Linked DNA regions of Homo sapiens: all the other regions are linked to region 3. Evidence: fine-mapped expression QTL. A gene starts in region 3. Each other region holds a variant in brackets. All regions are shown on one strand. Distances are between the middles of the regions. Region 1 overlaps VAC14 (VAC14 component of PIKFYVE complex). Region 2 overlaps IL34 (interleukin 34). Region 3 holds the start of MTSS2 (MTSS I-BAR domain containing 2).

Region 1 (5,000 bases), 44 kb after region 3:
AGGGGCAGTAGCAGAGGCACATATTAGGGACTGAGCATTTGCTCAGCTGGACAGGCTGCCACGCCTGTCTGTAGCAGAGGTGAGAGGAGGCCCAGAATGAACCGGAAGCCTTGCTGCTGGGCTTCTCTGGGTCAGGATCTCGTGAAAGAAGTCCCATGACTGCTTCCTCCTTTCCCTTGTGGGCCCCATCCTCTCCAAATGCCCGCCTCATCTTAGGAGTGCCCTGTTCTCCTGGGAGGTGGCTCGGACCTCATCTACCATTAACTGGGCCGGTTCGGATCAGGCCCTGGCATTCACCGCATACAGTGGCTCATTACAGATGCAAGCATTCTCCACCAGTCCTCTCTGCAAGGCGGCAGGGAGGAAGAGGAGGGGAAAAATGCACAGTCGCTGAAGCCAAAGCGCGGCTGGCCGGAGGGCCGTGTTGGCAGGCAGAGCGACTGTCTTCAGACTTGCTCGCTTCCCAGCACAGAAGCAGGCCTTGTAAAGATCACAGCTGTCGGGTCACGCTGGAGTTCATATCACAGTTTATCAAAGAGGCTGGGTTTTCTCCCTCCTCTCCTTTCTACTGAGGATAAGTGGATGGTTCACGGGGAGACAAGGCCTGGGCTTGTTCTGCCTGCATTAGCATGGAGGGTGGGAAGAGGCCGGGGGAAGGCAACGCACACCAACACCTACTCCGGGCAGAGTTGTTTTAGCGGAGCCGGGCCGGGCCGCTGGTGGGTGCCCTGGGCACTGGGGCAACAGGGCCGGTGCACTGGAGCCAGCTCTCGGCACGGAAGGTGCCATGATTTCATCCCCTCAGGGGTGTGGTTCCCCCTCCACAGACCACCCTGGGAAGCACAAGCCCTGTGGGGAGGCTGAACAACAGCCCCGCTTTATCAGACACAGCCAGCACTGGGGCTGAGACATGCGCCATTTATATAACCCCACCACACTATGACACGGCAGGCACTATCATCGCTGCGTCACAGACAAAGCAGAAAGGCCTTGGAAACAGGTCACACAGTTAAAAATGGGAGGAATTGGGGTTTGAGCCCCAAATGAGTGCCTCGGGAGGCTCATCTGCCTTAGTCCTGCAAAGTCCCGTGGAGGGAGTGGGGGTACAGCACCCCACCGCACATGTCGCCATCTTCGCTCTATCTGTGAGCTTGGCCTCAACTCCCTGCTGCTAAGGAAAGGGCCTGGAGCCAGAGTAGCTGGCTAAAAAATGAAGGTTTTAAAGCCACTGGCTTCACCTTGACATGCATCTCAACCGTTATGTCCACCAGAAAAGGAGGCTGTGTGGACACCGACAGGAAGTCCAACCCACTCAAGCCTGGCTGGAGCTTGGGTACCCCGTTCTCACCCCCACTGACTCCGACATGGAGGTGCGGCCTGGGAAAGCTGCCTGGGGAAGAGGAAACGCTCCCAGGGTCTTTAGGGAAATCATGCATCTTCCTCAATGCCAAGAACCCCCACCAGATGTGTGTCTTCAAGAACTCCCGATGCCTCTGTCTTTCTATAGCAGCCGCTCCAGGTCCCAGAGCTAAACACACTCCTGCCAAAAGAACAGCTTTTCACTTGCTGGCCAGAAGAATCTCTTTCCTTTCTTTCTCAGTGTGCAATCTTGGAGGCTGAGAAGAACAATTTAGAGTTTGCCTAACAGCTAAAGAGGGGGTTAAGAAATCATTGTGCTCCTCATCAGGCCTGTGGCTTCATGCCAGCATCTGCGGAACCATCGCGATGCCTCTCTTTATTTATTTATTTATTTTTATTTATTTTTTTGAGACGAAGTCTTGCTCTGTCGCGCAGGCTGGAGTGCAGTGGTGTGATCTTGGCTCACTGCAACCTCCGCCTCCTGGGTTCAAGCGATCCTCCTGCCTCAGTCTACCGAGTAGCTGGGATTATAGGCATGTGCCACCATGCCTGGCTAATTTTTATATTTTTAGTAGAAACGGGGTTTCGCTATGTTGGCCAGGCTGGTCTTGAACTCCTGACCTCGTGATCCGCACACCTCGGCCTCCCAAAGTGCTGGGATTACAGGCATGAGCCACTGCACCCAGCCAACGATGCCCCTCTTTAAAGTCATCGCAGGAGAAAAGGAAGTGCAATGGAGAAGCAGGAGGGCAGGTGGATACCCCCCTCCACCTCAACAAAGCTCTTTGGAACGGCCTCAGCCCCCCACAGGAGCATGGGGAGGATGGAGGAAGCCACATGTTTGCAGGGCCTTTTCCATGTCAGATGCTGTGTGTGCCCCCAGACTGGGTGGCTGGGCCTGCAACCCTGGAGCTGGTTGACAATGGCTTGGTGTGCTGGCAGAGTGGGCAGCAGGTTCCCGAACCAGCTGGGCCAGGTGGCTGTCCGCCAGGATGCACATTGACAGGTGTGGGTGCTGCTTTTGGGGGACAGCAGTCTGGAGAAACCGGGTGAAGGACTAGGAGAGACCCAGTCCTCTGTGAAAGGCCCAGCCACAAGGTTCCTTCTGTCCCAGCCCACTGGGCTTCTAGTGGGGATGCCAATGGCTAAGAGACCTTCTGTGGCTGTGCGGGTGGGAGTGAGGCCTGGAGGCCAGCCTCAATTTCCACTGAGAACCCAGTGTGGCCCATGGCAGGTTTGAGCCCCAGAAGAGCAAGCGATCGCCATACTGAGCCCCTGGAGGGTGGGAAGGGAGGACCCACTGGCCCAGCTCCTGAGCACGCTGAGGAGCTGGGCCTCAGGTGGTCCTGGCACGCAGGATGTTCAGGGCCTCTCACGGCACCAGGCTCTGCACTCCCACACAGAAGGGACAAAGTGGCGGCTGCTGAATTAGCAGAGTGCAGGAGTTTGCAGCCCAGCTCCTGCCCAGCCCAGTGGGCACGTTACTTCCTCTTATTTTCCCTTCTGCAAAATGACGATTCCCGTGAGCCCAGGAAGCCCAGGAGATGCACTGCAAAGCAAGCAAAGCCTCCCTGGCCTGGAGTCTGCACCTGGGAACATGGCAGTGGGCTGGCCTCCAGCTTCACAGAGCCTCAGGCCCTGAGCGGGTGGGGAGGGCATGCAAGCATGCCCATGGGGCCTGCACTTCTG[C/T]TCCATGCAGCCTGGAGATGCTGGTTACTACCCCAAACTCCTTCTCGCCATGCGTCTTGGTCATGTGGGGCTGAGACAGGGTGGAAAACCCACCTCAGCCCAGTTCTCCAGAGGGGACTCTAGCTATAGATTCCTCCTCCAAAGGCCTCTCCTTCCACTGACTCCCTGAAAGTCGTCCAGGCAAGGAGAGCTCATCATGAGTACTGATGCCTCTGCAATTTGGAAAACCACATGATGTTAACTGTCACTCTTGTGGGAACATTCCGCTGCTTTCCTGGTGGGGGGGCCTCTTGCACCATAGCTAACCTCTACCTCAATTCCCTACCTGAAACTGGCCAACGTGATGGGAAGAAACACCATGGAAATCTTCCTCTTTTGGCCAATGAAGGTTAAGAATCCATTTCTGTCTCTCTGACACGGTGGTTCTCAACTGGGGTGATTCTCCTCCCTAGGGGACCTCTGGCAATGTTTAGAGACATTTCAGACGGTCCCAACTGGGTGAATGCAAGTGCTACTGGCATTCAGGGGGCAGAGGCCTGGGATGCTGCTGACATCCTACAGGGCGCAGGACAGCTGCCATCCCGAAGAGCTATCCGGCTCCAATGCCAACGGCGCTGAGTTCGAGAAGCCCTGCTCTAGAAGAGCCCAGAGAAGCAAGAGGGTGGTGACAGCCTCCCCACTATCACAGGGGCATCCTTTTGGTGGCCAGACCATCAGAAGCCCTGTCCCCCACTGTGGTCCTGCTCTTTGTCTTTCTGGTCAGGCAGGCCTGTCCTCTCCCACAACTCAATTCTGCGGCCCCATCCCCAGGGTGCCCTCAACTCCACCTCAGCTCCTGAGCTGGCCGGTCACCTCCTGTACGCTCCACTCCCTCAACTCCCCCAGCAGCATTCAGGCTCCTGCAGCGGCTCGCAGCAGACCATCCCCGGGTCTCACCTCCCTCACTGCCTCCTGCCATCTCCCTGCTTGGCCGCTTCCTTTACCTCTCTGGCCCTTCGTCATAGCCTCCTTTTCTGGCTTCTCCTTCTTTCCCCAACCATTACAGTCTGGAACACGTAGGGTTCAGCCTCAGACCCCTTCCCTCTCACTCGACCTCTTCTTAAGAACTCCCTAAGAATGAAAGCTCCACAAGTGCAGAACCATCTAGAATGGTCCCTTGCACAGAGTTAGTGTTCAGTAAACATCTGTTGAATGAATGAATGAATGAATGACTATGCCATCAATTTCGAGATTGTATCTTGGGCCTCGGTACCCCCTTGGAGAGCCTGGTACAGCAAACTACTTCTTCAATACCTTCTTTTTGATGCCCCCAAAGTAATTCAAACTCAAACATGCACCCCCTCCTCACTCCCTGCCACTCTTCCGGGGCTCCCACCTCGGGGACTGGCATCACCATCCACCCGCTGCCCAAACCAGAGGCCTGGACACCCTGACACTCCCAGCTCCCTCTCCCCTCACTCTCTCCACATCAGTCACCAGACAAATCTACTTCCTACTCAGTCTCGAATCCTCATTCTCGAATCCGGCTGCAGCTTCCCATCCCCCTCACAAGCTGCCACAGTCTCTGCTTGGACAACAGCCTCCCAGCTGGCTCCACCTCAGCCCCTCCAACCCATTCGCCCCAGCAACAGTTGTCTTTCAAGCCAGAAATCCAGTCACGTTGATCCCCTGCTCAAGCCCTGTCAGTGCCTCCGTGCTGACCCCTGAGTAAGGTCTCTGATCCTCACTGTGGCCCACAGGCTGAAGCTGCTTATTAGTTTACAGCAAGATGAGCTCCCCAGGCTCCTTCTTGCCTTGAAGCCCCATACAGCCTAGGCCCCTGCCGGGACTCCTTCAACTCCTGACCCCCAGACCATGGTAGTCGGTAGTCTACTCAGTCCCCAAGCACCCCAGACCACTTTAATAACCCCATCACCCCAGGGGTTCCGATTTCACTCATCAGAGGGAGGCCC
Region 2 (7,065 bases), 24 kb before region 3:
GAGCCTGCTGGTCATTTCTACTTCTGGCCTCATAGTTTGTTCTTGTGCCTCTCCAGAAACACTACTTCCCCATCAACTACAAGATCAGTGTGCCTTACGAGGGGGTGTTCAGAATCGCCAACGTCACCAGGCTGGTGAGAATCCCTTCCTGGGCTGGGGGGACCCTGCCTCCTGCGACATCCGGTGGGCCCCAGCCTCAGAGGCGCGCTGGGACTGGCAGGTGGTGCTGCTGGCCTGGGGCCTCTCCTCAGCCCCGAGAGCAGGCTGGCCCTTGGCCCAGGCACATGTTTGTCCACTGTCCACAGCGGACGGCCCGCGTCTGCTCCCTATGCAGGGGCAAGTCCCTGGTGAGGGAGTGGTCAGAGCCCAGAGGCCCATGTCTCCCGAGTTGCAGTGACTTCCCTGTTTCCGCAGCAGAGGGCCCAGGTGAGCGAGCGGGAGCTGCGGTATCTGTGGGTCTTGGTGAGCCTCAGTGCCACTGAGTCGGTGCAGGACGTGCTGCTCGAGGGCCACCCATCCTGGAAGTACCTGCAGGAGGTGGAGACGCTGCTGCTGAATGTCCAGCAGGGCCTCACGGTGAGTTGTGTGGAGGAGTGGCAGGTGGGGTGTGTGTGTGTGCACACGTGTGTACATGTGTGTGAGGTGTGGCCAAAGGCTAGTGAGGGAAAGGGTGAATACACGGAAAGATGGGCACAAGCAGAGGGACGTGGGAGAAGTGGGGGAGGGGTGCAGGAAAAGAGGCCTGTGGAAGGAAGAGGCAGCCGTGGTGGTCATGAGAGCCGGGCTCGGGGTGCAGGCGATGCCTCTGAGACTCTGTTCTAGGCTCTGCCTCTCTCCCTCTGGATCCTGGGCAAGTCATCGTACCCTCTTTGTTTCTGCAACACGAGGGTCCTGGAGGTGGGGTAGGGGGAGAGGGGAAGAATGGATGGAGCACAGGGAATGTTTAGGGCAGTAAAACATGCTGCAGGCCGGGCGCGGCGGCTCATGCCTGTAATCCCAGCACTTTGGGAGGCCGAGGTCAGGAGTTTGAGACCAGCCTGGCCAAATGGTGAAACCCCGTCTCTACTAAAAATACAAAAATAAGCCAGTCCTGGTGGTGGGCACCTGTTATCCCAGCTACTCAGGAGGCTGAGGCAGGAGAATCGCTTGAACCTGGGAGGCAGAGGTTGCAGTGAGCTGAGATTGCACCATTGCACTCCAGCTTGGGCAACAAGAACGAAAAACTCCATCTCAAAACAAAAAACAAAAAACTATGCTGTATAATGCATTCATGTTGTATACATGACATCATGCATTTGTCACAACCCACAGAACTGTACAACAGAGAGTGTGAGCCCTAATGTAAATTATGGACTTTAGTTAATTAAAAAAAGAGGTCCCCCATCCCTGACCCGCTCAGAGAAATTGATCTGAGGCCTCAGGGATATTATCCTCTAAAATGCCTGAGTTGTAGTAAAAAAGGAAGGTGGCGAGATGACCCATGCAGGCCGTGTGTGCGGTGGGACCTCTCCCCGTCTCCACCAGACCTCCTCAGGACTCTGGTGCACACCTGTCCCTGGGATCCACCTGCTGCCCTGCCCAGCCAGCTGCTGACAAGGCCCAGCTTGTCGGGAGAACATCCCAGGCCAACTGTGAGCTTCCGACGGTGAAAGGGCTTAGGGACTAGCACCTGTTTTGCAGCTGCCTGGAGCTTTCCTGGAACCAGACTGGTGGGGAGGCTGTCAATTCCTACAAAGTCAGGAGACTCCTTGATCTGCTTGGTGGCTCTTTTTCCTGTTTATTTCATTTTATTTCTTTTTTATTGTTTTAGAGATGGGGGTCTCGCTATGTTGCCCAGGCTGGTCTTGAACCCCTGGCCTCAAGTGATCTTTCTGCCTCAGCCTCCCAAAGTCCTGGGATTACAGGACTGGGATTACATCCTGCCTGGCCTCTGTGGTGGCTTTTTTTGTTTTTTTGAGGCGGAGTCTCACTGTGTCGCCCAGGTGCATTGCAGTGGGGCAATCTTGGCTCACTGCAACCTCCGTCTCCCAGGTTCAAGCAATTCTCCTGCCTCAGCCTCCCAAGTAGCTGGGATTATAGATGCCTGCCACCACACCTGTATTTTTAGTAGAGACGGGGTTCTGCCATGTTGGTTAGGCTGGTCTTGAACTCCTGGCCTCAAGTGATATGCCTCCCTCAGCCTCCCAAAGTGCTGGGATTACAGGTTGAACCACCATTCCTGGCCGTCTCAGTCTTTTCATGGCCTTCTGCCCTGTTTCCATGTCTGTCACCTTTCTCTTACAAGGACATCAGGCATTGGATTTAGGGCCTACCTGAAATCCAGGATGATGTCCTTCTAAGATCCTGAACTTAATTACCTCTGCAAAGAACCTATTTCCAAATAGGGTCACATTCACGGGTACCAAGGGGTAGGACCAAGACAGCTTTTTGGGGGAGGAGAGGGACAATTTGGCCCAGGACATGTTGCCTTGTTGTCACCCCCTTCCAGAAGATCACCCCCCACGTTTCCCATGATGCTTTCTACAGTGGCCCTGACCTCCTGTTCAGGGACTTGATTCCCTTGGTGCCACGGTGCACCCCACATGACCCTGTTGTTGCATATCGTGGAGAGAAAGCACCCCAGCTTGAAGCTGGACACCCTGCCCTGTGTATGTGACTTAAGCCTCAGTGTCTCTGTGAGGACCTTCTCTTGTTCCTTGGAGTTGATGGAGATGTCTGCTTCTTGAGGGACAGTTTTCCCCAGGTCAGGGGGTCCTCACGCAGTGGTGGGTGGCCGTGCCTGGGTGCAGTTTGCCCCACTTTCCTCACTGTCCTGGTCTACGCCCTTTACTCATTTTTCAAGGATGGAAAAGCGAAGCCTCTGAGTTGTACATGGGTGAGTGGTGGCATCTGGGACCCTCCCCATGCCCACAGGAAGAAGATGGTGAGAAATAGCTATCCAGGCTCATGGTCACAGGAAGTCTGGTCCTTCTTCCGGGGTTTGGGCAGCTCCAGGTGACTGGACAGCCCTCACGGCTCTCCTGGGGTGCGGCCCCATCTCGCCACCGCTCCTGACTGTTTCCTCCTTTCCAGGATGTGGAGGTCAGCCCCAAGGTGGAATCCGTGTTGTCCCTCTTGAATGCCCCAGGGCCAAACCTGAAGCTGGTGCGGCCCAAAGCCCTGCTGGACAACTGCTTCCGGGTCATGGAGCTGCTGTACTGCTCCTGCTGTAAGGAGCTCTCAGGGGATGGCGCCTGGGGGTGGGAGGCCAGGCATCTGGGCCCACCCAGGCCAGCTGGCAGAGCTGGCGTCCTCCCGGGCATATCCTCTGCTCCCCGGGGCTACAAGCCATTTCTGGAAGCCAGGATGGGCCCTGGGTAGAGTGGGGGACAAGCACATGCGGCTTGGCTTAGTGGGGAGGGTGGTCTTGAACACTGCTGCAGTCTTTTTTTTTTTCCCCTATCTCTTGCAGGTAAACAAAGCTCCGTCCTAAACTGGCAGGACTGTGAGGTGCCAAGTCCTCAGTCTTGCAGCCCAGAGCCCTCATTGCAGTATGCGGCCACCCAGCTGTA[C/A]CCTCCGCCCCCGTGGTCCCCCAGCTCCCCGCCTCACTCCACGGGCTCGGTGAGGCCGGTCAGGGCACAGGGCGAGGGCCTCTTGCCCTGAGCACCCTGGATGGTGACTGCGGATAGGGGCAGCCAGACCAGCTCCCACAGGAGTTCAACTGGGTCTGAGACTTCAAGGGGTGGTGGTGGGAGCCCCCCTTGGGAGAGGACCCCTGGGAAGGGTGTTTTTCCTTTGAGGGGGATTCTGTGCCACAGCAGGGCTCAGCTTCCTGCCTTCCATAGCTGTCATGGCCTCACCTGGAGCGGAGGGGACCTGGGGACCTGAAGGTGGATGGGGACACAGCTCCTGGCTTCTCCTGGTGCTGCCCTCACTGTCCCCCCGCCTAAAGGGGGTACTGAGCCTCCTGTGGCCCGCAGCAGTGAGGGCACAGCTGTGGGTTGCAGGGGAGACAGCCAGCACGGCGTGGCCATTCTATGACCCCCCAGCCTGGCAGACTGGGGAGCTGGGGGCAGAGGGCGGTGCCAAGTGCCACATCTTGCCATAGTGGATGCTCTTCCAGTTTCTTTTTTCTATTAAACACCCCACTTCCTTTGGTTTGCTTTGCTTTGCATCTTCAGGGGTGAACCTGGCGGGGATGGGAGGTGGCCAAGTGCAGGAAGTGGAGGGGGGCAGGGCTGAGGATGCGGATTTGGAGTGGATGGAGCCTGCCCAAGGGATGTGGAATGAGAGGGATGCCAGGGATGGAGTTCCGGCCCAGCCCAGCCCAGCCCAGCCCAGCCCAGCCCAGCCCAGCCCAGCCCAGGGGCCTCTGCAAGCCTGGGTTGGGGGAGGCGGTGTTGGGCTGATACCTTGGCTTTGACCCTTGCCATCCTCCCTCCCTCCCTCCCTCTCTCCCTCCCTCCCTCTCTCCCTCCCTCCCTCCATCTGGCTGCCCCCAGGCAGCCCCTAGCAGGGACACATATGGGACATTTCAGAGACCCAGGTCTGGCCCTGGCACCTACATTGAGATCTGAGATCCTCTGGGAACCCCCAGCCTGTCCCCCTGCAGCTGGGATCTGGGGTGGGAAAGGTGAGGTGTGGGGATGGGGTAGGAAGCAGCCAGGCAGAGGCAGGGGTGTTAATTACAGTACACCTTTATTAATACTGGAATCTTCACAGTGCATCTGTTACTTGTAGCAGTGACTATATTTAAATCGGGGAGGATGGTGTGGAGGGGGCGGGGAGGAGAGGAGAATTTTTCCAAAATCTGACGGAAAGAAAAGAAACAAATGGTTCAGATGGGACGGAGGGTGGGGGAGGGGGGGAGGGTGAGTAGGAACCAGGAGGGCTGCCTGGGGTGGGGGAATAAATTAAAAAAAGGAACGAGTTAACAACAGCACCAGGAAAGTTACTTCAGTCAAAAGACGCTTTTGAAAAGAATATTTCTCCGTACAAAATGAGAAATTAAACGAACGTAAAGTCCCCCAAACCAAAGTTTGTGATGTGGGATGGTTGGCTCGGATCCCGAGGTGGGTGGGCCTATGAGGTGGTTGCTAAGTCGACGCAAGGGCGGCGGGGGTGGTCTCAGGGATGGACAAGGGGATGGAGTAGAGTATGTACAGCCCCCGGGGCTCACAGGGGAGGGGGACGGCGGAGTCGGTGGGGGCTGTGCCACACGAGCCCCCCTCTCTGGGTAGCCCCTGCCTCCTTTCCCATCAGGACCTCTGACGCCCAGGTCTGCCCACCCACTGCCCCTCACTCTATTCCCACCACATCCTGAATCCTGCTCCACCGCCCTGCCTCGGAAGACCCCTGCAGCCCTGGGGAGAATGTGTGGCGGAAATTCTACCCAAGACTCCCCAAATAATTGGTCACCTGCTCTCCTGGCCCCTAAAACCGGGGCTCTGGTGTTGGCCTGAGCTCCACGGGCTGAGTGCTCGGCCAGGCAGTTGTTGAACCTAGTGACTTACTTACAGGGACCATTCTTCATCAGCTCCCTCTGATGGGACTCTGTCCACATCAGGGCCTGCTTGGTGCCCGGACCTACCCAGGAGCTGCCCAGCTCACCGCACAAGAACTCCCAGGAGCTCAAGCCTGGGAGGCTCAGACCCAGCTCCATTCTATCAATCAATCAATCAATCATCAAGACCAAGGTGCTCCTGACCCCCAGGTAGGACCCTGCCCTGGGGCCACGATGCCCTCTGAGCCCTGCTTTCCCTCCTGACCTGCGGGGCCACCAGGACTCCCTCCGCTCGCCCTAGGCTCACGTGCTTTTACCTGCTGAGACTTGGCGTGACTTGGTGCGTGGGGTGGGGGCAGCCTTGCCCCTCCCCTTGCCCCCGCTGCCACCACGAGCCTGGACTACAGTGGGGGCCGTGCTGGGATGGCATCTCCTCCGGCAACAGAGAGTCAAAGCCAATCTTCCCAGACTCGCTCCCCCACCTGGGCTTGCAGCCAGCTCAGACCACAGCAGACAGGCCGGGAGCCTCCCAACCTTATTTTGGCTACGCTCGAGACACTGGAGAGAACAGTAGCTTCCACCGGGCTCTGGGGGAGCCAAGTCCCTCCCTTCTCATCCTGCCATAGGACCACCGGGGGGTCCCTGTCCCCCAGGCACTCCCAGACACACACCCTGTATCGTCCCCTCTCCCCCACACTTAGTCCTCGTCCACAGTCAGCTCCATTTTATTATATTCATAAAATGACCCCACACCTCCTACTGCTCCAGTCACCCCCCGAAAGGTGGCTAAAACTGTGACCCCCAAAGTTAAAAGATTGATGTACCCAATGAGAAGTGGACATCTGAAAACGGTGCCTGTGTGGCTGGCCGGTGACCCCAGGGCCTCCGGCCTCCTAACCCTGCTGCCCTAGTTTCCAAAGAGCTGCTCTGGCCCCCTCCAGCCAGCCTCACGGGGTGGGGGAGGCGAGGGGTGGGAGCCACCACAGGGCCCCCAAGACCCCCCCCCCCAAGCAGCCCCTGGTTTCCTCCCTGAGACTTGGCGTGGGCCCTGGAACTCCCTTCCCACACGGGGGGCCTGGCCGCCCAACTCCAACCTGCCGCCCTGGCCCCCAGCCCCCAGCAGACATCCAGCCCAGCGTGCACCTGGCCCCTCCACAGCCGCCCCGCCTCCTGGAGGGAGAGGGGCCTGGGAGAGGCAGAGAGAAGGCAAGAGGGGAGGAGGGGGCTCAGGCAGGGGAGAGGGGGGCCAGCATTCCAGGAGGAGCTGAGGCAGGACCAGCCCTGGGAGAGGCCGGGATGGTGAAAGGGAGGCCAGCCTGGCCCCTCTGTCATGGGCAGCGGCCCTGGCTCTGGTGCTTATGGGTAGGGAAGAGGCAGGGCCCCAGAGGAGGAAGAGGAGGGACCGAAGAGCATAAAACAGACCCCGAACCAGGCCCAGGCCTGCAGGCTCCGTCCTGGCCAGGCTTGCTAAGAAGTCACTTCCTGTTTAAATGCTGGAATCCAAGTGAGGTGTCTTTCCATAAAGTGGCATGGCCTCTGCCCTGGCTCTGTCCTCTCTCCTGGCTGGGCCTTTGCTCTGAGTG
Region 3 (6,901 bases):
CGGGCAAATGGGAGAGAAAGTGAGCTTCTTGTGGGGTGGTTGCAGGGCTTGACCTGGGCCGGGCTCCCTGCATGCTCCATCCAGACTTGGGGCAGTTTCTAAGACAGCAGCCCTGCCCCATGGAGAGGGAGGCTCTGGGTCCTCTCGGAGGGCAGAGGACCAAGGACAGAGCCATCAGCATGAGGAAAGCCTGTCCCTGGGAACGGGCGCCTTTGCCAAGCCCTCCCTCCCTGACATCAGGACATCCACCCTACAGGCTACAGGGGGCTCACATCCTCCCTCAGGGGAAATGGAGCAGGAAGTGGCAGGTCCTGTCCCCTCGGGGTTTCCCAGGGGCCTGGCAGGGGATCTGGGCTGAGCCCAATGAGAGGCATCGTGTCTCCCGGACATGTGCCTAGGACACTGGCACTGACCTGCCCACCAGGGGCAGAGGCACAGTGTGGAGGGTAGGGGGTGGCAGGGCTGAAGGCACACCAGGTGTAGACTGGGGCCTCCGGGGCCCCTGCCCTGTGTCCTGGAAGCTGCCATCCCAGGCCAGCAGCAGTGGCTCCCAGGGCCGAGGAGGCTGTGGCTGCTGCAGGGCCCAGCTAGCCTGCCTGGGACAACCAGGCCCTGGGCTGAATGGGGCCTTGTGCGGCCAACAGAGCCACCTTTCTCCACCCCCTGCTCCCCTCCCCTCCTGGGGAAACAGTGTGGCCTTTATCCCAGCCTGGCCCAAGGCTCCAAGTTGGGAGGGGGTTTCCCAATAGGGAGGTCGGGCTCCTGGCCACCGAGTTGTCCAATCTGATTTTGGGGCTTTTCTGGTTAACGCATGCCCCGGGGTCCTGGAGAAACCTCAGCCCTGGCCCAAGGGCCCTGTGGAGGTTTTGCCCCTTGACGGGCAGCCCTGGGCCAGCCAAGCCCCAGCCCACAGGGGCTTCTGACCCTCCCTTCCATGTAGGATGGGGCGATGGAGGCTGGGGCTCTTCCTGAGGAAAGGGGAATGCGGAGACCCTGGCCCTCAGGGCCTCAGAGGGAGGCTCTGCCTGGCTGCAACCCAGGAGCAGGCTAGGGCTTGCCCTGCCAGACTAGGAGAGCTTGCAGGGGTGGGAAGGAGACAGGGCGGCTTAGGGGGCCTCAGAATCTCCCTCCCCTCCCAGCCCAACCAAACCAGTGTCCAGAGAAAGCAAATATTTGCAAAGTCCACAGAGGCTGAAGCAAGAGTGGGTAAGCTGTGGGTGGGCTGTTCCCAAATGGGCACAGCTCAGGGTGAAGGGGCCTGGGAAGCTGTTCCTAGCCGTCCCAAGGAGTGGACTCATGCCACCTATGCCTGGAGTACCCCTTGGGGGTCTTCTAAAAGGGGGCGCTCTCCCACCGCCTGGACCCCCACCCCCACTCAGCCTTGAAACCTTGCTAAGATCTCCCTTTAGGGAGCAGAGAAGTTGCTAGGGGTGGAGGGGGGTCCAGAGCCAGCTGCCCTGGCACCCAGGAACCTTCTTAGCCCCTGAGCAGCCCTGGGGCAGTCTCAGAGATTAAAGGCTCTCCCCATGGGGAGGGGACAAGATGGGGCGCAGGGGAGGCCAGGCCATTTCCCCTCAGCAGATGGACCTAGATGCCTCAGTCTCTAAGGACCTGGACCCGCCCCCCTCCCCACGGTAACCACATAAAGGACCCCAGAGACAAAGAGCTTATGTCTTATTTGTTTATATCCGCCTCTTCATGGATAGGTCAATTTCACTGATTAAAAATAAGAGATAGGGCTCCAGCAGCCAGTGCCCCAGGAACAGCATCCTCAGCCTTCACCTGGGACAGGCCCAGGTAAACCTTCCCCACAGCCCCATTTCACCAACAAGGAAACAGAAGCCCGTAGAGGTTAGCTCATTTGCCCACGGCCACAGGGTGGCGGGGTCAGGACCTGATCCCATGTCTGCCTGGTCACTGCACGCCAGGTAGAGGGACTCCCTTACAAAGCAGGGAGACAAGCACTGAACGTCAAGGCTGGGGAGGCGGCAGGGACTGCTGGGATGTGAGAGACACCCAGTTCTGCCCCAAGCACAGTGGCTGCTCTGGAGTGGGGAGGTGAGGGGCTTCTCATTAGAGGCGCCCAAGTGGACAGGGATGAGGGGACTCTGTCTCTGTCCCGGCAGTGGCTGTGGTTCAGATGTGGAGTGTGGGTGAGCAATCCAGCCTCCAATCCCAGGGAGTGGGCTTTCCAGGTGCCCCTGGGCAAGGGCCCCCTGTCTGAGCCTCAGTTTCTTCACCTGTAAAATCAGGAGAGGAGGAGCACCTGCCCCACTGGGTCAGTGTGGAAATTGAAGCAGGTGCTGCTCAGCCAGCACTCCTCGCAGCGCCCAGCACGCAGTAAGTGCTCAGTTAACACCAGCTAACAGTACGCAAGCCCTGCCCTCTGCAGGGGCCCCTAGCAGAGGCCTGGCCAGGCCTATGTGTCCAGGTGACATTCCCCACTCTTGAGGGGTGGGTGAAGAGTATGACCCCATTTTCTGGCTGGGCCAGCACTGGGTGGAGGCCCCATTCACCTTGCTGAAGGTGCCGTGCCCAGAACTATGACCTTTGGCAAGTCTCTGCCCCTCTCTGGGTTTCAATGGGCAGCCTGACACCAGTGGGCATCTGACCTTGGCCCCCGCTCAGCCCAAGGTCAGGGCCTCCCAGAGGCCCAGGGGAGGGCTTCTGTGGGGCCTGTGGACTCACTGTGGGGTGGCCTCACGGGGCAAGCTCAGTCTCCTCAACCTGGCTGCTGATGGCCGCCCTTCCTCTACGGAGGCCCTGCTGCTCAGGCCACCGAGGGGAAAATCCAGAAGCTGCCCCCGCAAATCCAGGTGGTCAGCTTCCAGGTGGCCTCATCCCCTTCTCTGCCCCTGGTCATGGCCCCTGAACACATGCCTGTGTCATAGGTAGGGGCGAATCTGTCCTTGGCATCATCCCAGGTGAAGCCTCTCCTGTTTTGCCTCCACATGTCAGCAAATCATGCCCGATGTCTGGCTTGAACCTCTTGCTATGATCTGGGCCCACTTCCTTCTGTCTCATCCCAAAGTTCCTTGCAAATTGGCTGGAGAGGGAGAGAGACTGTCCTAGTCCACTTCCACGAGCAAAATCTGCTGCTCTCTGCAGTGGTTGCTATGAGGCTGCCAGTGGTGGTGGGTGGTGGGGTGCGGGAAGGCCCATCCGGAGCCAGCTCTGGGATCGGCCAGGGGAGGGTGGTCTGTGTTGCCCAGTCCCTTAACAGGATCCTGGGGCCAGGGCTGTGATGTCCACAGGACAGGTGGGGACTGCTGGGGGCCAGCGGAGGGGCCCAGATGTACAGTTGCAAGAGATGGGGGTCCCAGGGGGAGTGCACCATGAGGGGCAGGGGGTGGGGGGCATCTACAAGCCGCTAACTGGGTAGTCCCAGGCCAGGCTGGCTTCAGGCCTCTTCCGGGGGCAGAGATCTGGCAGCTGTCCCTGGGGCTGTTGTCCTGGCAGCACCGGGAGCCTCGAACTCCAACCTGCCAGCAACCCCCACCCCTCACGGGGCCTGTCCTAGCAGCACTGTACTGGGTGGTGTCACCCCCATCCCTGGCCTGGTGGGATTCTGTGTTGTGCACTTGGAGAATCTGCGCTGGGCTGTGGGGGTGGGGGCCCTTGGGAGATCCTGTGGGGTGCCTCGTTCTTTCCCCTTCTCCCAGCCCCCAAATCCTGCCCCTTCATCCTAGGCTAAGGAAAGGGGGCACGGCAGGAGGGCAGGAATACTGGTTCCTGGCCCCCACCCTATCACTGGAGCTGGGCCCTCTCTGCCTAGTCAGCGTAGGGCAGCCCTGCCAAACCCTGGCCTCATTTGGGGAGAGGAACCCACTAATTTTCCCAGGAGGAAAAATGGGGGCTGAGGTCAGGGGAAGGGTCCAATAGTCTCCTTAGTGACCTTGAGCCATTTCCAGGCCTCAGTTTCCCCACCTGGTGGGGTGAGGAATGAATGGGTGGTTGGATCCAGCCTGACCTTAAGCAATCCTGGGAGACAAGGAGGGCTCGGAGCTGAGAGCCCAGGGTGGTAATGGGGTAGGAAAAGCGCTTCCTTGGGGTTGCTCCACCGACCCCAACCTTCATCCCGCCTCCTCCCAAGGTGATGATCAAGGCCTATCCTTGGGATGCAGGGACATTCAGCCTGGAGACCTTGGAGTCCTGGAGCTTCCTGGGGCTGTGGGGGTGGGGCGGGGCTGGGGGACGCAGTCTCACGGTCGGGTGCAGAGGCCTAGGTCGGCGGGGAAGGAGTTAACGGTTCTCCGCTTTATTATTTTTTCCTGCTTTGGCGGTGACAGCATTGTCTGGGCTCCGGGGCCGTGGGGGAACATGGTGGTGGAAGGGGGCGGAGGCCGGTAAGACCCCGGACTCGTTAAAGGGCCCTAGAGTCGGTCCTGGATCCAAACCCCATTCATGGTTTGGCGGTCTGGGGCGCAGGGAGCCTGCGTGTGCACAGGCTCGGGTCAGGACCCCACGGGGCCACCGCGGGCACCGCACGGACACCCCGACACACGAGCACCCACACCCCCAGACGGGCACCCGGAGACACGGGCGCCCAGCAGACGCAGGCAGGACGCGCTCAGACAAGGACACACAGACACCGCGGCGCGCGGCCACACGAGGCTCGGCCACCCGCCGCCACGCGTCCCCGGGGGGTCCCGCACCCGTCGCCGCGCGCCCGGCCCCGCCGCGCCCCGGTTACCTTCATGTCGTTGACTATGGCCTGGAAGAGCCCGCCCAGGGCGCCGCACTCCTTCTCCGCCGTCTCCATGCTCTGGCTGGGCCGGGCCGCGGCGGCGGCTAGGCGCACGGAGCGCGGGGAGCAGCGCAAGGGAGGGGGCCAGGCCGCGCGGGCGCTCGCTCCGAGGCCGGGCCGGGCCTCCCGCCTCCAGGCTGCGCTCAGCGGCCGGCCGCGCCGCGCTCCGGGGTCGCGGGCCTCCGGCGGGCGGCGCGGGCCATGTCGCAGCGGGGCTGGCGGGCGGCGCGGGGGGCGCGGCGCGGGCAGCTCGCGGCGCAGCCTCGGCGCGGGGACTGACGGCGGCGGTAATCCGAGCCGCCGAGGATCGGGCGTCACGTGGGCGCGGCGGAGGGGGGACCGCGAGGAGGGAGGGAAGGAGGGCGGGCCGCGCGGGAGGGGGCTGTGGGAACGGCCGCGCGGGCGCAGGCCCATTCACGGCCAGAAACCAGGGCTTTGAAATCCGAGCCCGGGCGCTGCCAGACTGGTCCGGCGAGCGGGGCCGACGGGCGCGGGCGCCACCGAGGGTCGGGGGGCGGCGCTGGGCGGGGCCCGCCCTGCCCACGCAGGAGCGGGACTGGCGGTTGGGCCTCGGCCCCCGGGCAGGGGCTCCACGATATCTTCTGGCCTTTGGTCTGGGGCGGGGGGCTTCTCGCGCTTCTAAAGACAGGCAGTGGGTACAGTGGCGGGATGGGGTCGGTGCATGGGCTGGATGGGTGGCATACACCGCACACAGCAGGGCGCGGGGTATCGTGGAGCCGCCCGCCTTGGGACGTTTCATCGCAGGCACAGACCTTCCTCAAGTTCGGACCCTTCCAAGTTCCTTGGCTCCTTCTCCAAGTGGTGCCGATGCCACCCGGATGGGGTGCCCAAGGCTGGGCATTTGGGGGGCAGTGGTAGTCTCCTGGGCCTTGAACAACCTCCTTCTTCGCGGGTGGGGGCTAATGTCGGACCTGCAGAGCAGAGCTGGAGTGTCCTTGGTCTCTGCTGCCTGAGTCCACGGTGGGTGCGATGCACACACGTGCATGGGGTAGCAATGTCAATCGCAGCCTGTCCTGGAGACTCCAGGCAGGGAAACCCACCCTGGGGGGCAGCACGATGGGGGAGCGCACTCTGGGGAAGAGCAGGCACAAGCTCCTTCTCGCCTACTCCATGGGCCGGAGGGAGCCAATTACAAGCTCATTAGGAGACCAAGCCCAGGGTTCCCAAAGCCTGGGGACAGGTGGTACCACTCCCGGTGAGGAAGGGCTTTCAGCTGCAGCAGTGGTTGGGGCACCTGCCCCTCCCTGGACTGCTCTGGGCTTTTCCTCCCCTTGCCCCGAGATCTGCAAAGTGTTCTGCAGTGTGCATTGCCCTTTCATCCAGGAACTCCTGGGGCTCAGCTCCCATGTCCCCAGTGGGGAACTCCCATTGCCCCAGGGAGTCAGGATGAGAAAGGCAGATTGGGGAAGGCAGGGTTCAGGATTCCAGGGCAGGCAGTGCATGGTGCTCTCCAGGAGGGTGCAGGTTCCAGAGGTGGGGACCTAGGCTCTAGGCCCATGGCTCCACTCAGGTGAGTGCAGGGACCAGGCCCTGGGGCAGCCAGTACTCCTTGGGGCCATCATGAAACCCGATCTCCAGGACAGAGGGTGAGGCCCCCGGACAGCTGCACGTGTCAGCTGGGAAGGAGCAGGCCGGCTCGGGTTGAGGGTTTTCTGTTATTTCTTTATTGGGGTGGGGGTGGGGTGCATCATTCAGATCTTTGTGCTGGTGCCTACGTGCATACAAGTACACACACACACACACACACACAGGCATGTGTTCACGTATGTATACATATACACACAAGGCCAGAGCTCTAGTGTGCTGGAGGAGGGGCAAGCTCTTTTTCCAAGAGGGTATTAGAAAGAGGTTGATTCCAGAGGATGAGTGGTCTCTGAGGCTATAGCCCCCCACTGGGTGGGCAGCCAGCTCTGTGAGAATGCCAGGGTGCAGCTGACAGCGCTGGAGGCCTGGGGACTGGACTCTGAGAGGAGCTTGGGCAGACACAGCAGCCTCCGGCCCCAACACTGCCCTGGGTTGGCAGGCCCAGCCCTGGTCCTGACAGGCAGGTCCTTGAGCTCCTCGGGAGGGCGTGACGACCCTTAGTGTTTCATGGGACCACTCGGTGGGCCCTCCTCCGTGCCAGGCCTGTCA

The links. PIP is the estimated chance that this variant, and not a neighbour inherited with it, causes the effect.
Region 1: its variant is the best candidate, but not a certain one, in a credible set for the expression of MTSS2 in whole blood (TOPMed, PIP 0.54).
Region 2: its variant is the best candidate, but not a certain one, in a credible set for the expression of MTSS2 in tibial nerve (GTEx, PIP 0.68).

The regions. Positions count from the first base shown.
Region 1 is chr16:70,725,591-70,730,590 of GRCh38, forward strand. The region is part of intron 14 of VAC14 (VAC14 component of PIKFYVE complex); the gene reads right to left. Among named protein-coding and RNA genes, the nearest start is that of VAC14-AS1, 27 kb to the right of the region's middle. RefSeq lists an enhancer at 776-1,070. The variant C/T (reference allele first, on the strand shown) is at 3,049.
Region 2 is chr16:70,656,546-70,663,610 of GRCh38, forward strand. IL34 (interleukin 34) reads left to right here. Exons shown (of 6, transcript NM_001393494.1): 3 at 57-134; 4 at 415-576; 5 at 3,073-3,208; 6 at 3,452-4,137. The coding sequence ends at 3,642. MTSS2 (MTSS I-BAR domain containing 2) reads right to left here. Exons shown (of 15, transcript NM_138383.3): 15 at 4,659-7,065. Among named protein-coding and RNA genes, the nearest start is that of IL34, 14 kb to the left of the region's middle. The variant C/A (reference allele first, on the strand shown) is at 3,552.
Region 3 is chr16:70,681,030-70,687,930 of GRCh38, forward strand. It overlaps MTSS2 (MTSS I-BAR domain containing 2), which reads right to left and starts at 5,024. Exons shown (of 15, transcript NM_138383.3): 1 at 4,694-5,024. The coding sequence starts at 4,762. It overlaps VAC14 (VAC14 component of PIKFYVE complex), which reads right to left. Exons shown (of 19, transcript NM_018052.5): 19 at 6,410-6,901. The coding sequence ends at 6,899. RefSeq lists an enhancer at 6,552-6,901.